Regions from separate parts of the Homo sapiens genome. Here region 1 is linked to region 2. Evidence: fine-mapped expression QTL. A gene starts in region 2. The other region holds a variant in brackets. All regions are shown on one strand. Distances are from middle to middle.

Evidence for each region. PIP is the estimated chance that this variant, and not a neighbour inherited with it, causes the effect. A credible set is the group of variants that fine-mapping cannot tell apart.
Region 1: its variant is the best candidate, but not a certain one, in a credible set for the expression of ATP6V1C1 in whole blood (TOPMed, PIP 0.75).

Annotation. Positions count from the first base shown.
Region 1 is chr8:103,056,147-103,064,146 of GRCh38, reverse strand. ATP6V1C1 (ATPase H+ transporting V1 subunit C1) reads right to left here. Exons shown (of 13, transcript NM_001695.5): 9 at 1,100-1,192; 10 at 919-1,012. Among named protein-coding and RNA genes, the nearest start is that of ATP6V1C1, 39 kb to the right of the region's middle. The variant G/T (reference allele first, on the strand shown) is at 4,270.
Region 2 is chr8:103,016,088-103,026,873 of GRCh38, reverse strand. ATP6V1C1 (ATPase H+ transporting V1 subunit C1) reads right to left here and starts at 5,791. Exons shown (of 13, transcript NM_001695.5): 1 at 5,649-5,791. It also overlaps the pseudogene NPM1P52. RefSeq lists an enhancer at 5,352-5,561.

The sequences.
Region 1 (8,000 bases), 39 kb before region 2:
GCGGATTTCAAATACCTCCTCTCTCCATACTTAAAAGATTCAGCTAACACTTCCTTGGATAACATTATTAGGCTCATTTGGATGTACCAAACAATTAATTTAAGCAAAAGGATAGCAAAACAAGTGAAAATCTTGTCAAAATATCTATTTTTTAAAAGGATTTTGGGTTTGCCCTAAAAAGCTGGTTATTTTGACATTACTTGGTTAGAATGAGTTTCCTCCTAGTTGAGATGATATGGCTTATAAAGTACTTGGAAATAATTTTCAATATTTCCCTTAATTTCCTCTTACATTATTAAGAGAAACACATTTTCACTCATTATGTTTCCCTTTCCAAACAAGCTTTTAGTCTTCACAGTAATCCCACACTTGAAGATGGCAAGAAAGTTAACACCATCTTTGATTTTCACAATTCCACTCGTTTCCCATTACACCTAGAACACACCAATTCTCCAATAGCTTAAATACAAATTGCTTCAATAAAAGATTGAGGCATTGAAAAAATCTGCCTCAAGAAAGTGAAAAGTCTTACTGAAAAGAACTTCGTTACTTAACTAAAATCACCCTTCACCTACAAGGATGTTAACCAGAATACTGCATTTAAAATTAATGTCTGATATGGATTTAGGTGGAGTAATTTCTTTTTAAGTATGTATTTTAGGATAACTATTCTATCTACTCTATTCTATCTCAGATAGACATAAGCTTTAGAAGAAAGCTTTCTTAGAAATAGAATAGTTATCTCTAGAACAGTTAAGCTTTAGAGGAAATTCATTCTGATTATTCAATTAAAAAAAAAAACTAAAATCAAATGTCTTAAAACCAAAGCAGATTTTTACTTTCTTTTAAATCAAAGGAAAGCAATACCACTTTTTCTTCTGCTTAGTACTGATAATACTAAATATTAAAAACACATACAAATTGTTTTTTCTTATCAGTAGAAAGCCTGTTCATTTCTTCTTTATCTGCTTTCATCTCCTCTTCATTATACTGGAAGTCACGAACAATGAATCTAAATTTGGGGGAAAAAAAACAAAATTGTTCACATTGTATACAGCTGATCTAACAAAGTAAATAAACAAAAAAACAATAATCTTACTTGTTTTCTCTGGCTTTGTGTCTGAAGTCATCAACTGCCTTCCTAAACAAGGTGACATTACACAGGTAACTGTCTTGGTCCTCTGAAAGAACACTATGGAAAAAAAAAAAGTCCATTTAAAGATTTATACGTATTGCTGTCTTTCATATTAAGGGCAAAATTCAGAAACAGGTGGAAGAGAAAAGTAGGGTATAATAGCCCTTCCCAAATCACCTCAATGCTTTTCAATCTGGATTGCCTCAAACACCGAAGATACTGAATGTTTATGATTTATTTTGCTTATGATACCTTAACACTCTACATTTATTTCTTACTAACCAACAAAATTAGACATTAACTCCAGTAAAGCATCCAAACGCTAAGAACCACACTTTTCAATCAACATCAGCGCCAAGCTGCTTTGTTTCCAGTGTCTCCTTGATAAGCACACTCTTCTTTTCTGGAAGCCTAATTCTTTCTTCCTTTCTCCAGGCCAACTCAGCCCCACTGATGCCCAGCCTAGCCTCTCTGCATTGCCAGTACCTTAAACCTTGGATCTTTCCTTTGCTCCCATGACATCTCTCAATCAAAAACTGACAGGCTGGGTGCAGTGGCTTATGTCTGTAATCCCAACACTTTGGCAGGCTGAGGTGGGTGATTGCTTGAGTTCAGGACTTTGAGACCAGCCTGGGCAACATGGCAAGACTGTGTCTGTACAAAAAATACAAAAACTAGCCAGGCGTGATGGTGCATGCCTGTAGTCCTAGCTACTCGGGAGGCTGAGGTGGGAGGATCACTGGAGCTGGGGAGGTTGAGGCTACAGTGAGCTGAGATTGCACCACTGCACTCCAGCCTGGGTGACAGAGTGAGTCCCTGTCAAAAAAAAAAAAAAAAAAAAAAAAAAAAACCCTGATGAACACAACTGTCTAAATAATCTCTGAATAAAAGTGCCTGTATGCATCTCATGGCTCCATTTTAGGCTTTAGAAGGTCCCAGTGAGGTCAGAACTTCCATTCAGTCACAGCTCCATGGACATCACTAGAAAGACCTTTCCAGACACAACTGCCAGGTAATTTTAATGGTCATTTAAATCTGTAATACCTTGGGTGAAAGTCCACTGTTTGAAAGGTGAATGGTATCGCTTGTGATAGTATGGTCCAAATTTGGCTTTCAGAATTTACCTATAGTGCCTCCTGTATAGAAGTCCTTATGTGAGGTCCACAAGGCTGCACAGGCAGCTGTTCCACAGCGATAACCTTGGGGCAGGGGAATGTTACTGAGGGGAATCTCTTCTCCTTTCTGTCTTTCACATACTGGAGTTCTTCTAATGTTTAGTGTTTTTTAAACAGCTTTACTGAGATATAATCGTTATACAGAAAACTGTACGCATTTAATGTCTATAATCTGAAGTGTGGACATACGCATATACCCATGAAACCATCACCACAATCTAGACAATAAACATACCCCTCACTACCAAAAGGGTCCTTGTGCCCTTTTGTTGGTTGTTTTCTTTGTTTTTTAATGTTCAGTTTTACAATGTGGTACTTCTGAAATCAGAAAAAGGAAATTTTACAAAATGGAGGAATGCTGGGGAATTTAAAGATACTATATTAAAAAAATGTTTAAAGCAAGTGTAGTTTTTCCTGAAGCCTAAGAACCACCTGTTTAGCCAAGTAAATTCAGGAGGCAATTACAGTGTTAATCACAGAATGGCTTTAAGTACTGAATCTACCCTACTCCTCGTCAGCCAGCCAGCAGGGGCACCTCCCTAGTGTATGACCAGCAGACACCTCCAGGAGTACTGATCACTGTAATCGCTGACATGCAGAGAAAACTCAAGTACTCTGGATTTAGAACCTCCTGTTAAACTGTATCTTCTCAAAATGATTACCCTTAATTCTTGCTCCTGGTGTCCATCAAACCCAATGAAGGGCAGCTACCAAGTGGACAGAGCTCGATTTAAAAAACCGTTTAAGGATCTTCTGCTTTGCCAAGATTTACTCAGTGATGTGTGAACTGCTTGAGATCAAAACAAATCCAAATCTAACTTGACAGGCTATTTCAGGGCCACAAATAATGTTTTACTGTTATCATAGTAATCTTTTAAACTTATCCAACACTTTGCTGTTTTGAAGACCCTTCCAAAAGCATTTGGTGCTTGACATGGCCCTGTGTCAATGAACAGGTTACCTATTAAGCAGGTTCCTAGCTATTGTGCAGAGATCTGGGACACAGCAAATTCCTATGGCTTACTCAAAATCCTGATGGTGAAAAAAGCCAAGATAAAACCTCCATCTTATCTTATAACTAAATCCTACTATGCCACCTTATTATGAAAAACAAATAAAAGCCACTTGCTTTCCCTCTTTCCCCTAAGGAAAGGTATTTCTTAAAACTGTTTAAAAAATAAACCACGAGTCCTTACTATAACAGACTTGTAGTCATTTAACATGTACTGAGACTCTGTAATGCAAGCACTTGCTAGATATTAGTATAAAACTAAGACAGCATTTCCTGATCTCCAGGTATGGGTTTAGTAAAGGAAACAGGCATACACAAGTAACTGCAATATAGAGTTGTAAGTGCTGCAATAGAAAATATACATGATACACTGGGGAATTAGTAACTTTATCTGAGGGGATTCAAAGGAGTTTCACCAAAGTGGTGATACCAGGTGGAAGTTTGAAAGAAAGACAAAAAAGAGAAGAACGTTCCAGACAGAACCCCATATGCAAATGAATATAGATGTGGAATAACATGGTGCATCTGAGGAATTGCCAGAAATAAGTATAACCGGGGCTCAGCATGGTAGCTCATGCCTGTAATCCCAGCACTTTGGGAGGCCAAGGTAGGCAGATCACTTAGAGGTCAGGAGCTCGAGACCAGTCTGGCCGACATAGTGAAACCTCACCTCTACTAAAAATACAAAAATCAGCTGAGTGTGGTGGCACATGCCTGTAATCCCAGCTACTTGGGAAGCTGGGGAAGGAGACTCACTTGAACCCGGGAGGCAGAGGTTGCGGTGAGCCAAGATCACACCTCTGCACTCCAGCCTGGGTGAGAGAGACTGTGTCTCAAAAAAAAAAAAAAAGAAAGAAAGAAAAACAATATATATATACATATATGGCTGGGACATAGGGTACAAGAAGAGGGTGTGTGGGTGTGTGGGTGTGTGTGTGTGTGTGTGC[G/T]TGCTGGGGGCAGGCAGTCAAAATGGGGAGGGACAAGCAGGGTTTTAGACGGGAAAGCAACACATTTGTATGTCACAAAGATGAAAACAGCAGCAATGTGGAGGACTGATGAGAGGAGAAAAGGAGACCAGCTAGGGTCAATTACCATGGTCCAGGCAAGGGATGAGGGAGTCAGAGCTGGAGCAGTGGCAGTGGGTCTTGGGGGAGTGGGGAGAGTAGATTTAACCCTATGAAATTGTAGATATTTGACCATTTTCTGACCTACAAAACATCAATTTTTAACGGTTCAACCAAATACTATGGAAGGTGGAAATGACATAACTGATTAGACTATTTCAGGTGGGGGGCCGGTGGGGGGAGGGGGGTGCAAGGGCAAAGGAAGATTCCAAAATCACTGACTACCACACTTGCGGTTTGGATCACTGGGCAGATGTTGCTGCCATATACTACAGGGCAACTAGAGAGTTTGAGTCTGAGATTGGGGTGATAGTGTCAGTTACCTAGGAAATACCACATGGAGTGGTCCAGTAGGAACCAGGTATGTGGTTGGGGGGAAGGCTGGCTACAGACGAAGATTTAGCAGTCCGAAAACTGCAGGTGAGGCTAGAGCCATGGGTGTGGTTGAAGTGGTACTGACAGGAGAACAGACCATCTCCCTCAGAAACTCTGAAACATAGAGAAACTTCTGGACAGTGGCCAGTATCATTCTTCCTGCACTTCTTAGCTAGGCTCCTCTGCTTCACTGGGGACTCCAGATCCCTAAAGAAAAACCTCTGTGAAGCATCCATGAGTTTGTGATGTTGCTTCCAATGACAGAGAAAAGGCAAAAGTTAACCAGTGATCTGACTCAATCAGACTATTTTAACAAGCAAAAGCAGACAAAAAAAAAAAAAATAGGAAAGTGGTAATTCTGAAAGGACAAGTGAAAAGCACCTCTTTCTGAACAGTGTTTCAACAAAAAAAAGCAGAACAGCAGCACAGCCTCCACTTCTTTGGCCACAGCCTTGGCATGGCATTTATACACATTGCTGCATTTAGCCTCACAGCAATGGTAGTATTTCAAAACCGTCCAATCTTTGTAGAATATTTTATAAATAGTTATATTTTGTGAACTTTAAAATTCTTTCAGGTTTGAGGACAGTTAGAAGAATAGATTGAAAAATATTAGATTGAATATTAAAGTGAATATTTTTCAATCTACCTCAAAATTCCACTTTCATCTTCACTGCTCCCAACAATAATCACTCAAGTTATCATACCAAAAAGTAATGTGTTACTACCTATAATTAATTAACTTGTGTAAAGCACATAGAACAAAGACTAGCTCACAGTAATTACTCAAAAATGCTGGTTGTGATGATAAGCCAAAAATTCAGCATCAGGTCATAGAGATCTTTCCTAAATGGCAGACAATATTCCAGGCTCACTCAAAAAAGCCTATTTGCCCCTACATGAACTGCACATACTCTTGATGGTGCTATTTGAGCTAGTGCTATGTTCTCTCTGACTAAATTTAAACAGGTAAGTTTTTGAGTCAGTGATTCCAAATGTACTTTGAACTGAGAAATAGGTAGAAAAGATGTTTTCACTGAGCAAGGAAAGGCTGGAAGCTCTCGGAAGATTAGTGTGCACTTACAAGTCACTTGCAAACAAGTCTTGACTGCATTAAACTGTTCCCTTCCTGAAATTTGCCCTTTAAACTACTAAAGTGACTGTCCAAAGATCTAAATCTCTGATGGAATATTTTTAAAGTCTTTCTATCAGAGTAAATCTGAGCTTACTTAATGAGCCTACAGACCATCCCCCTGGACATCTGGGTTGGCGTATGTCCATCTCTGGAGGACATTCTGGGTGCACCACGTCCTCACTCTCCTCCTCTACCTGCCTCCTAGACACAGAGTCAACCTCTACGGCTCTAATGCCCTAAAGATCTGTCAGTATCAACAGCCTAAGTGAGCCATCAATATCAAGACACAACTGTAGTCTTCAGTTTACCATGTGAAGAGCTGGTATGAAGGAAAGATATTCCTCCAAATGAAAAAAAAAACATTCATGATGAGCACAAGTTTGTTGTTAAGTTCCTAAAAGATCAACATTTGTGAAAATACAGTAACATTATCTTGTATTTTGAATACTCCATTAAGTCTTAAAATAACTTCATAATATATACAAGGAAGGTGCTATGCTCCATTTACAGACAAAGAAAATGAGGCCCAGAGAAGTTAAAAGACTTACCCCAGGTCACACAGCAAGTTGGTAGCAGAACTGAGGCAGGAAATAGGGTCTGGAGGCAGGGAACCTAAGGTTGTTTCACCCCGGTTTCCTAGAACTAAATTGAAAGGAAAACCCTAACTTTCCACGCCTAAGTAACAAAAGGACCAGAGGCTACTCCTTTTGACCTTTCCTGCATGGCAGATGGGAAATTGGCTGTCTGCAACAAATCAGACTGATTGGGAGGCCGAGTCTTCATTCGCATAGAAGTATAACTTTGTAACTTCACCCTAGCCTCTGATTAGTTGCCTTCTGCAACCAATCAGATATTTGCACAGGAGTGTGACCTTTGTAACTTCACTTCAGCCTCTGGTTGGCTGCTTTCTGCAACCAATGAGGCTCACTGCAGGCTACCACGTCATTTACATGAGGTGAGCATGAAGTGGCCAATGGGAAACTTGTAGGAGTTATTTGGACCCAAGAAGATTCTGTATCCAGGCCCTTGAGCCACTGCTCAGGTCTGCTCCTACACTGTGGAGTGTACTTTCTTTCATTTTTAATAAATCCCTGCTTTCGTTCTTTTGTTGCTTCATTCTTATTTTGCTTTGCTGGGCATTTTGTCCAATTTTTTGTTCAAAACACCAAGAACCTGGACAACTCGAAGTCACAACCCTACCAGTGACGGACCCTACCAGTGACAGACTCTACTGGTGACAGAACCAGCAATAGAACTCAGATCCCTGAGTCCAGGACTCTTTCCATCATACTAAGCTACTTCCCACATGACACAATGAAACTGGAAAAGAAAATATTTCATGGGCCTGACCTTACTAATTCCACTTCTTTACTGCCTCCTATATCTTCCACCCTGCTGCCTCCCCTTGAAGCACATATATATCTATAAGAATCCTTTGGGGTGGAGATACACTGTATTTATATTTTCTCAAAGAATATCTGGTGTGGCAATGGCAGAACACAGAAAAATGACATGGAATAGTGTTAAAAGGGTACAGGACCTGGAGCTAAAAGATGTGAGTTCTAGCCCTAACTCTGCCATTGGACACTTTACACAGCCATATGCCTCAGGCAACTATTTAAGCATTTTAACTTCTTCTTCCTTGAGAATAAGAATGATAACTGTCCATACTTCTTCACAGACTTGTTGTAAATTTCAAATTAGACAATGCATGTTAAATCTATAAATTTAAAAAGTGCTTAATAAAAACAGGTTTGTTTTTTAAATAAAAGGAACACACAAATTAGGTAAAATCTAAGCTCAAAGTGATGGTGAACATCTGGAGATCAACACGGCAGTCCAGTAGCCATTCTGGTACACTTCCTTTGCCAAGTAAAATGAGGAATTATAGACACATAGTAGGTATGCAATAATGAATAAAGAATTTTCAAAAGGCAGCACAGTGAGGCAGAAAAAGTACCACACCAAAGACCTAGGTTCTAGTTCTAGCCCTGCCACAAATGAGATGTGTGATCCTGGGCAAACTATTAATACCTCACTGGCC
Region 2 (10,786 bases):
CATGATTCATACGAAATGAGATTTTAAAACTGTCAGAAAATATGCCTTTTTATTTTTTTTGGAGACGGAGTCTCACTCTGTTGCCCAGGCTGGAGTGCACTGGCGCGATCTCGGCTCACTGTAACTTCTGCCTCCTGGGTTTAAGCGATTCTTCTGCCTCAGCCTCCTGAGTAGCCGGGATTATAGGCACGAGCCACCATGCCCAGCTATTTTTTGTATTTTCAGTAGAGACAGGGTTTCACCATGTTGGCCAGGCTGGTCTTGAACTCCTGACATCAAGTGATCCGCCCGCCCTTTGCCTCCGCTTCCCAAAGTGCTGGGATTACAGGCGTGAGCCACCACACCCAGCCCCGCCTTTCTTAAATAAATCTTAAATATTCCGTGTTTTGTTTTCAATGGAAACAATACCCATAAATGCTCTATAATCCTATTAAAACTACCATAATTTCTTGCCATAAATATACTTAAATATGAAAGGCAATTTAATCTTTATTAGACTCATTTTATCAACTACAATTTTTTTATTCCACATTTGCCTAGAAAGCAATCTGTAAAAGCAAAGCCTTACTTTCACACAGATACCTATCACAAAAACTGGAAACACACTGTGACATTGTGGAGTGGGGGCTGGGGATGTAATACATAATACAATGTTGGAAAATTTCTAGTAACTTCTGGTAAAGCTACTGAATTGGCAGACATGGCCAGGAGGGCCCTGTCGTACACCCATTACTGCAAGTAATCACCAAAACCTTCTCAGCTTCTAGAGACTCCTCCTCTGCACAGGCAACTCAGCGGTGACCCAGTGGGCAAATAATTCCTTCCATGCCAGGGGATTCCCTGAATCTACACTCATGGCTCCCAAAACATGACTTCCCTTTTCTTCATGGCTGGCAATTTATAATAGTGACTGGACCACGGTACCACATTCTGCTAGAAGGTGCTGATATCTCCAATACAATGTATTTTGGCCTGAAATTCACCAACTTAAAGACTTTAAGATTAGTTTTCTCCAACTCATGACCCTAAGTAAGCTTGAGATTCTGTTTACTGGTAACAACTATCACTGAATATGTACCACATGTTGTGCCCAGTGATAAGCACTTGCATCTACTAAAGCAATTTTGTATTTAATTCCCTCACAAGATGTGTTATCACCACCCCCACTTGCAAATGAGGGAACAGCTGGTGAAATTAGTTGCCCAAAGACATTTAGTGACTACATTTTATTGGGATTAAGGGGACTCTATTTGAGTTATTCATGCAGTTTTACAAAAGACAAGTGCCTCAAAGAAATATTAGGATATAGTTTCAGTAATTTTACACTAAAGGAGTTACATTAAAACATCAAACACTAGATTTTAAATTACTTGAATTCCATTATATGCAGTTTATTAAAATATTACTTTTAACCTCTGTAACCTCAACATCTTAATATTTGTCCAACAAATAAACTGACACCACATGCATGTTTTGCACCAAATGGTGCCTCTCTCCTCCAGGAGGAGTCTGGAAATGTATGGGAGCATTTTGGGTTGTCCCAATGTGGAGATCGCTAATCAGCATTTAGTGGGTAGGGGCGAAACAGACCTCCAAACTGCCAATAGCACCCACATAGAAACACTAAACTATGGGCTGATTCAAAAGGAAAACCTTTCATGGTAAAGTTAAACCACCTGTTAACACGCCTTAATTTACAACTTCCTATTCATTGATAGTCTGTTTAAAATATCTTAGAAGATCCATCGATCCCTTTCTATAAAACATCACTTACCTAGCATTTTATTTTCAAATACACACACATACTCACACAGACACACACACACACACCCCACATTTTAGATATACAGTTAATACTCTTTTATCCCCGATGTAACCAAAGCACTTCTCCTCCACTGCCTACCTGGCTCATTTTTTAACTCAATAAATGCATAGTAACCAAAGCACCTCTCCTCCACTGCCTACCTGGCTCATTTTTTTAACTCAATAAACGCATAGTACATTTGCACATGGTATAATCTTAGAAGTAGATGTCCTGCTGGATAAAAAATTTTGTTTCAGCATCAAGAATATAGTTTGAAATTTCTAGTTCCAAGAATCACTCATGTCAATAGGAAATTTTAGACTGCCTTGGTTCACTGCCTAAGCGTCCCAAGGGCACTATGCTAATGTTTATACTATGTCTGTCTTTAAAAATTGATGAAAAATGGAAATCTAACATGAATTAATTTATAAATGATATATAATTCCACACCCAAAGAGTGAAAAAGATGTAACCTGTAGACAGATTTAAATATGTACAAGAGCAAAATTTTAAGTAGGAGGTACTCAGTCAAAACTGTAGTACTCCTAAGCAGAACCAAGTTCAAAAGAAGACTTGCTGCTTAGGGACGGGTAAACTACATGGAGACCTTTGGCAAAGGTTTACTTTGGCATTCCAGTTGGCCAATGGTATTATCTCGTGAGTTGTGGAAATAATCACAAAATCAGATTTTTGAAGCCCTGAAGTTTCTTTTTAGGTTGAAAAAACTAATGTACATGAGGCTCCTAAGACTAATATACCAAAAAAATAAAAATGAGTATTTTGTGCCAAGTTTTAAAAGCTGAATTACACTATCTAGCTCTCAGCATTTAGTTAGATCCTGAGTACTGTTTCTTTAGATTTTATCTAGTCCCTACAAGGTATACCAAAAGAGAAAAAGATCCAGGACTTCTGAGACAGAACCCTGAGGCTCAGTCTTCAGCATAATTTGAGACTCACTTTTTGCCAAAGAACTGTGATTGACAACCTGAGCACTTTCAGTTCACCTTATTGTTCATTATTTCCTCCAGATGAACTGTAAATTGAACAGCTCTATCCAAGATTATAGATAAGACATAGCCCACCACTGCCAATTCCTTTGAAGCTGTTCTACTAGAAAAAGTTCATCAAAAGTGCTGACTCTTCAGGGAGAAGTTCCCCCCCCCCAAAAAAAAATGCTGAATCAAAGACTACTGTGCACTTCAAAAAACTCGCCCTTTTCTCTAGATGTGACTGTGGTTAGTACTGTGTAGGTAATCAGCAGGAATACATCAGCAGTCAGAAAACTGTGGCAGTTACTCCGGACTCAGCCAAATCACTTTACGTGTTTCTCTAGCTCCAGGTTCCCATCTATACAATGAATAGCATTTTCATCCACTGTCTTTCAAAGAACTGTGAGAACAAAATAAATATGAAAGTGATCCCTCCCTGTAACTATATTTCAATAAAAGATATTCTGAAATAGATGACCTTACAAAAGGATAAATTTGAAAAGCCAAAACAAATTTTTGCAAAAGAGCCTCTGCTATGTACTTCAGGACTGCCTCGAGGGTAGTTACGACTACCCTGTGAAGGGTACAAATAGAATCGAATCATTCTTTCCCTTCCCCAAGTCCTGAACCCTCTAAAAGTGAATACAGTTAAACATTCTGAAGTCCTCAGTGGAGAGAGAAGGTATCTTGTCTTCAAATCCTTCAGTGGATTACAACAATGTTCCCCTGAGCGGGTCTCCCCTCATTCACTTTTGCCACCCTCCACATTATCTCCCCCCCACCAAAAAAAAAAAAAAAAAGCCACAACCTGTCTCAATCCACTGCCTGTAATCTTCACTGGCTTCCCTCTGTTTTTAGAATAAAAGCTCTGCTTGGCGTGACCCCAGCTTTCTCCACCTGCCTCTCTCCCTCCCCGTTTCAGCCATGCTAGCCTTTCAAAAAGGCTGAAAAGCTTTCTTCCTCTTCACATTTCAGGGCCTTGACATACGCTGTTGCTTCAGCCTGAAATGTTCCTTTTTCGTTTTTCAGAGACAGGGTCTAGCTCTGTTTCCCAGGAGGGAGTGCAGTGGCATGATCACAGCTCACTGCAGCCTCGAACTACTGGGCTCAAATGATCCTCTCGCCTCAGCCTCCCGAGCAGCTAGGACTACAAGCACACACCACCACTCCCAGCTAGTTATTTTTTTATTTTTGGTAGAGACGGTGGTCTCACTATGTTGCCCAGGCTGGTCCTGAACTCCTGGCCTCAGGCAATCCTCCCACCTCAGCCTCCCAAAATGTTGGGATTATAGTCACGAGCCACCCTGCCAGGCCTGGAATGTTCTTTTCACTCACACCTTCACATTCCCTTTTCAGTCTCTTTTCAGATCTCAGGTCAAAAGTCATACCCTCTCAGAGCGAGAGGGTATGAAGAATATAAATAAAATTGTTTTAATCTTTAAAAAGTCATATTCTTAGCAATGCCTTTTTAAAATCTTCCATAATACACATGCCCCTACTACACTCTTTCATACCACTGTTATTCCTTCAAAGCACATTTCACGCTTGCTTGATTTTTAAAATCCATCCCCTCTGCTTGCCTGTAAGCTCTATAAAGACAATTTTCTAAACCCTACCATCAGCACTGTACCTGCATACAGCATGTATTCAGTACACATTATTTGCATGAATAAGTAAACGACTACCATTCAAAAGTCCTCGTTACCTGACTCCCAACTTTCTTTCCCACTTCTCCGCAGTGCAATCCACTGTAAAAGCTACTTCTGACTCCACCAGAAGCATTCCCTACCCCCATCTTCAGGCTTTCAAATCCTGTGGCTTTCCCTGCCTGTAAAATTATCCCCATTTCTCTCAACCTGTTCAAATCCTGAGGGCTTGCCAAGACTCAAGTTTTCTTTCCTCCAGAATATCTTCCCATAGTGCCAGTTTACACATGTGTCGTTGCTCCACACTTTCAAAGCACTTCGCATTCTCTTTTTGGTAAGTATACATAAACTGCATCGTATTTTAACGTGTCCTGTGTGTAGACTTTTCTCTCCAACGTTAGTGCTAACTCCTAAGGATAGACTGTTCACATCCCACCCGTTCCATTCCCAGAGCGGCGCTAAGTACTGGGCTCGCACTGAAGCATGTGATTTTTCCCTAACATACCAGAATTTTCCTCTGAAAAGAATACTAGCTTCCCCCTTACTCCTGTTTCTCAAGTGATTCAATATGCCTTATGTGACTCTCACCAAGTTCTTTTCTAGGGGTTTGTTTTGTTTTGTTCTGTTTTGTTTGCCTACCCTCCCCCATTCTACTAAAAAATAGTTGAGTTCTCTGGATTCCTGTTCTTTCTCATTCCTAGAGGGACCTTGTGTACTCTGTGAGGGTTCCTTGCCTGCAGTTAGGGGCTCCTAGGCCTTTAAACTGTCATCCCACCACCCCCGACCCCCGACACCCGCGCCCCCCCCAACACACACCCAGTGAAGGCACTTGCGCTAGCTGTGACCTCACACACACCACTCCATAGCCTCACCTGGACCTATCACTTCATTCCCCTCAATCAATCAGGCGGCGTGCATTCCTACCCAAGAAGAAAGATCCCAGACCGCTGTATCTCTCCTTTCTGCCTGTCATTAACTACCCACGAGAGCTCTTTCTCTTTTTCCCTCCTTCTCTTCCTTAGAGACGGAACCTAGGCCCAAGACGGTGAATTGGCGCCGAGAAACCAGACACAGCCACCCAGCCAGCTCCAGCTCCAACGCCACGGTCTCTGCCCCCGCACCCACCCGCGTCCCTCCCAGGCAGCGACCGGAGCTCATGCTTCGGCCTGACCAGGACTCCCCATCCGGGGAGAGCCATCGCTCACTGACCCAGGAAGGTGTCAAACGAGGAAGTAGCAGCAGTAACAGGTACCGAGGCAGACAGCCTAGCGGACGCTATCGGCTCAGCGATCCATCCCTTCCCGACCTAAGCTCCGGCCTCACGGCTTCCTCTACCCAAGCGAACACAGAACAAGTCACGTGCCAGCCCAGCAGTCAGCTGACCGCGGCGCGCGCTGCTCCGCCTACGCCCGCGCCACTGCGCAGCCGCAGCCGCTGCCACTGCCGGGCCTTGGGAGAGGGGCGGGACTAGGAGGCTACGGGGCGGCAAGGGGACCCTATATTCGGGGCTGATCGCTGTTGTTCCAGAGTGGGTGGGGTTTTCCGCTTCTTCCAGTGTTGCAAGTGGCGTTTTGTCCACCACTTGTAAACGTCAGCGCCACTGCAGGTTTCTGCGGGTCAGAAATTGTCTCCAACCCCCTACAAGGGCTTCTCCACTTGGGGTTTTCTTCGTCAGCTGGGTTTTCTACCTAGTATACTGGCTAGTAGTTCATTTTAGCAGATTCACATTTTCCTGAAGTCCACTTAGACTTAATTTCATAAATGGTCCATGGAGCATTTACTGTGCGCCAAGCACTGCGCTCGTTCTTAGGATTGCCTACTGGAGAGAATCACTCCTTGCCACGAAAGCGCCTCATAGATAGTTGAAACCACATTAGATAGTGGGAAACCAAAGGTTTTAGGACAGAGGCATAGACAGGGGAAAGCATCTCCTTTGGAGAAAAATAGGTAACAAGCTCCTCCCAGGAACCCTGCTTATTTCATTAGCTTGGGGAGATAGATAGTAATGTCCTAATTTAGAACACAGAGTTTTAGAAGTAGTAGAAATTTTGAGATGTTCTAATTTAATCCTTTTAGATCTACAGATGAAGAAAGTGAGGGCACGGAGTTGTTCAGCGCAAGGGAATAGATACCAGGTGTTGAATCCAGGCTCTCCTACTTACTAGTTGTGTGACCTTACTCCTCTGAATTTCAGCCTGTTCACATGCAAAGTGGTGGTAATAATACCTTACACAGGTATTGTGAGGATTAAATGAAGCCTGTGGTTAGCACAGTGCCTGGTACATAGGAAACAACCAGTAAATGGTCGTCATTATTACTATGTATTATAGGACCCAGGTTTTCTGACCTATACTATGCCTTTTCTGCTGTGTCCCCCTACAGAAATTCACCACAGAATTTCTCAGAGCCTCAGTATTAGGTTGGACAGAAAGTAACAACCACCAGACTATCCCCAACCTGACGCTTTCACCAGTTTTGGATGAAGTTCATGCAATTACAATAACCAGTTCTATAACATGGCTTCAGAAACTTATCAGAATTCCAGAGGCTTTTATCTGCCATCACGAAATGAGCCTAAAGGCATTTTTTTTTTGGTTAGGTCCACTAAAACTTTCTGCCATGATGCAAATGTTATCCTGTGCTGTCTGTACAGTACCCACTAGCTACATGGAGCCATTGAGCACTTGAAATATGGTTAGTGTGACTTAGTAACTGAATTTTAAAATTTATTTCACTTTAATTAAAATTTAAATAGCCACATGAGACCAGTGACAACAGCCTTAGACAGTGCAGTTTTAAGGTCCATGCTTGAACTATCTTGGTTTCTTCGTGCTTGTGTGTGGTCCTGAGGCAGACTTTTTGTCTTGGATTCTTAATTTCTAAACTGAATTATACCTCGCGCAACTTTCCAACATTTGGGGTTTTTTTTTTAGTTTTGGGGTTTTTTTTGAGATGGAGTCTCGCCCTGTCGCCCAGGTTGGAGAGCAGTGGTGCGATCTCAGCTCACTGCAAACTCCACCTCCCGGGTTCAAGCGATTCTTGTGCCTTGCCCTCCTAAGTAGCTGGGACTACAGGCGTGCACCATCACACCCAACTAATTTTTGTATTTTTAGTAGAGACGGGTTTTCCTCATGTTGGCCAAGCTGGTCTCCAAGTCCTGAGGTCAAGTGATCTGCCCACTTGGCCCTCCCAAAGTGCTGGGATTACAGGGGTGAGCCATCGTGCCTGGCCTCCAGTGTTTTAATTACCATGTTATACTTGGGAGGCAGTACAACAGAGTGTTCAATAAATGTTAGCTCTAATTTTTATGAGGTTTAATGTATCTCACTTAAAAATTTAGGAAACATAGCTGGGCATGGTGGTGCATGCCTATAGTCCCAGCTACTCGGGAGGCTGAGGTGGGAGGACCCCTTGAGCCCAGGAGTTCGAGGCTGCAGTGAGCTAAAATTGCACCATACACTCCAGCCTGGGCAACAGAGCAAGACCCCATCTCAAAAAATCAAATAAAAATCTAGCAAAGATGTTTAATATAAGCAGGGCATGATTGCTCTCCAGTGGTTTCTAATAGTAAAGTAATATGTTTTTACAGAGAAGCAACTCACTTTTTAAAAACTGTACTATGCATAGAAGCATACTAGGTAGCCATGGGCATGTCACACCTTTTCCTCCATTTCCACCTATCTAAAGACTACTCATCTCCAAACATCTAAGTTTAAAGCACTCCTAAGATGCATGGGAGAAGATTTATTTTTTTCTTACAACTTTTTCCGGGGAAAAAATTTATTTTTTCCTTTATTAAAATATTGAGCTTATTTCAGTTACATATTTTTGTCTTCCCACCATTTCCATTTGTCTGACCACAGCTACTACTATGTCCTATCATAATATTCCATACATACATATATACTGAAAACCAAGCAAAGAGCCAGGCGTGGTGGCTCACACCTGTAATCCCAGCACTTTGGGAGGCTGAGGTGGGCAGATCACTTGAGGCCAGGAGTTTGACACCTTCCTGACCAACATGGCAAAATGCCATCTCTACTAAAAATACAAAAATTAGCTGGGTGTGGTGGTGCATGCCTGTAATCCCAGCTGCTTGGGAGGCTGAGGCAGGAGAATTGCTTGAGCCTGGGAGCCAGAGGCTGCAGTGAGCCAAGATAGTGCCACTGCCCTCCAGCCTGAGTGACAGAGCAAGACTCTGTCTCAAAAAAAAAAACAAGCAAACGATGGAGTTTCATCTTTAAAAACTACAGGGGCATTTTGGACAACACATTTTTGGCAATGGAACCTGGACAATATTTATCCAACGTGCTAGGGAACTTCTCACTCTGAATTGTAAAAAGGACAGTTAGATATCAACTGTTACAGAAATGAAATGACAGATAATTTTTTTCTCTAAAAGAACTATTAACGAAATGACAGGTAATTTTTTTCTCTAAAAGAACTATTGGGTTAAAAGATTTAAAAAAAAAAAGAAGAAAGAAAATTTTAACAAGCTGTTTAAACTATTTTTTTTTTTTTTTGAGACAGAGTCTCACTCTGTTGCCCATGCTGGAATGCAATGGCGTGATCTCTGCTCACTGCAACCTCTGCCTCCCAGGTTCAAGCGATTCTCCTGTCTCAGCCTCCCAAGTAGCTGGGAATACAGGCATCCACCACCACGCCTGGCAAATTTTTTGTATTTTTATTTATTTATTTATTTATTTTTGGAGAGACAAGGTTTCACCATGTTGGCCAGGCTGGTTTTGAACTCCTGACCTCAAGTGATCTGCCCACCTTGGCCTCCCAAAGTGCTAGGGTTACAGGCATGAGCCACCACGCTTGGCCTAAACTGTGTTCTTAAAGAGACTTCTTCCACTGCCAGAGATGGTGAATAGCCTCCTAGTTGGTCATCCAGAAGTAATTCTTCACATAATTGATGCACTTAGCTTTGGGAAGAGAACCAACTTTTTCTATACTTGCTTGCATTTTTGCTTTTAATATATTCTACAAAACTAGGTCCTTTTGGTGTTTTAAGAGGTTTTTTCCCCCTGTTTTTGAAGGATTCTTGACCTTTTGGTCTTAATCTTGATAGTTCTGAGTCTTTTTTATTTTGGTTTGATCTTTGTGCATTTTTTGGATGGAGTATCCTGTATAAATTTCATCACTAGAGCTTTTTCTTCAGTTTTCCCTTCATCAAAATGTTCTTCCTCTTCATCATCATCATGATTTTCATCAGCAAGAAGTTTTATTTTTTTCTTGTAGAAATGTACCCACTTCCAGGGGCAGATCACTTTCCAGATATACTGAAAAGTCTCACATCTCCCTCCTCTTCATGTCCTGCTTTGTATCTTCCTTCATACCTGTTAAGTGCTGTGTACTCATATGCCCAGGCCCTGAAACACACTGAGTGTAAGGCCACAGGCAATGTTATTTCAAAGCCCCCAAGATAAACCATTGACTGTACATACCTTTTTAAAGTTGCTAGTATTACTTTAATTGGACTGCCTTCATAGTTCATTACTTCTGCTTCAACAATATAAAATCCATCCTTTCTACCAGCCCCTAAACTGACCATTCTTAAAGATAACTTGTGCTCATTTTCATCATTATCCACCTTAAAGTGATAATCTTTGTTGGCCTCTAGTCACAACCAAAAAGATAGTTCTGGGGCCTCAGGAGGCTGATGTCCATGTCCGTCAAATCTTCCATGGGTGGCGGCAAGCACTTAGGTAGGAGAGAAGCCAGGCAGAGGTAAACAACCACGCTCCAGAGAACAGCTGTGCAGGATGGAATCATACCAGCAACCAATTATTTTGTTTTTTGATTACTGTTTTCTTTTTTTAATTTTTTAAATATTTTTTAACTTTTATTTTAAGTTCAGGGGTACGTGCGCAGGTTTGTTACATAGGTAAACTTGTGTCAAGGAGGTTTGTTGTACAGATTATTTCATCACCCAGGTATTAAGCCTAGTATCCATTAGTTAAACAAAGTGGAGAAAGTATTTGAAGCAAATAGGGCAACAGGATTCAGAACTCTTTTTCACTCTGGTATAATAGTCAAGATATCTTGAAAGTTGTTACTGGCATTTCCCTTAGGAAACTAAGTGTCCTTGTTTAAGAAAATACCTTGATAAACTAATATCTTCCACTAGGGTGGAAGAAAAACTGAGAGTATGGTTAAATGGAGGCAAAGACCAAAGAAATAACTTGAGCTAGTTTCCACTGAAAAGCAACAGAAATTGGAGAATGAAGAGATGGGAGAGAGGCATAGGGAAGAGAAGGAAAGAAAGAGAAAAGAGAAAGACAAATGACAAGGGACTTATAAAAAGAGGAATATTTAGAACTCAATTTGAGCTTACTTCAGTT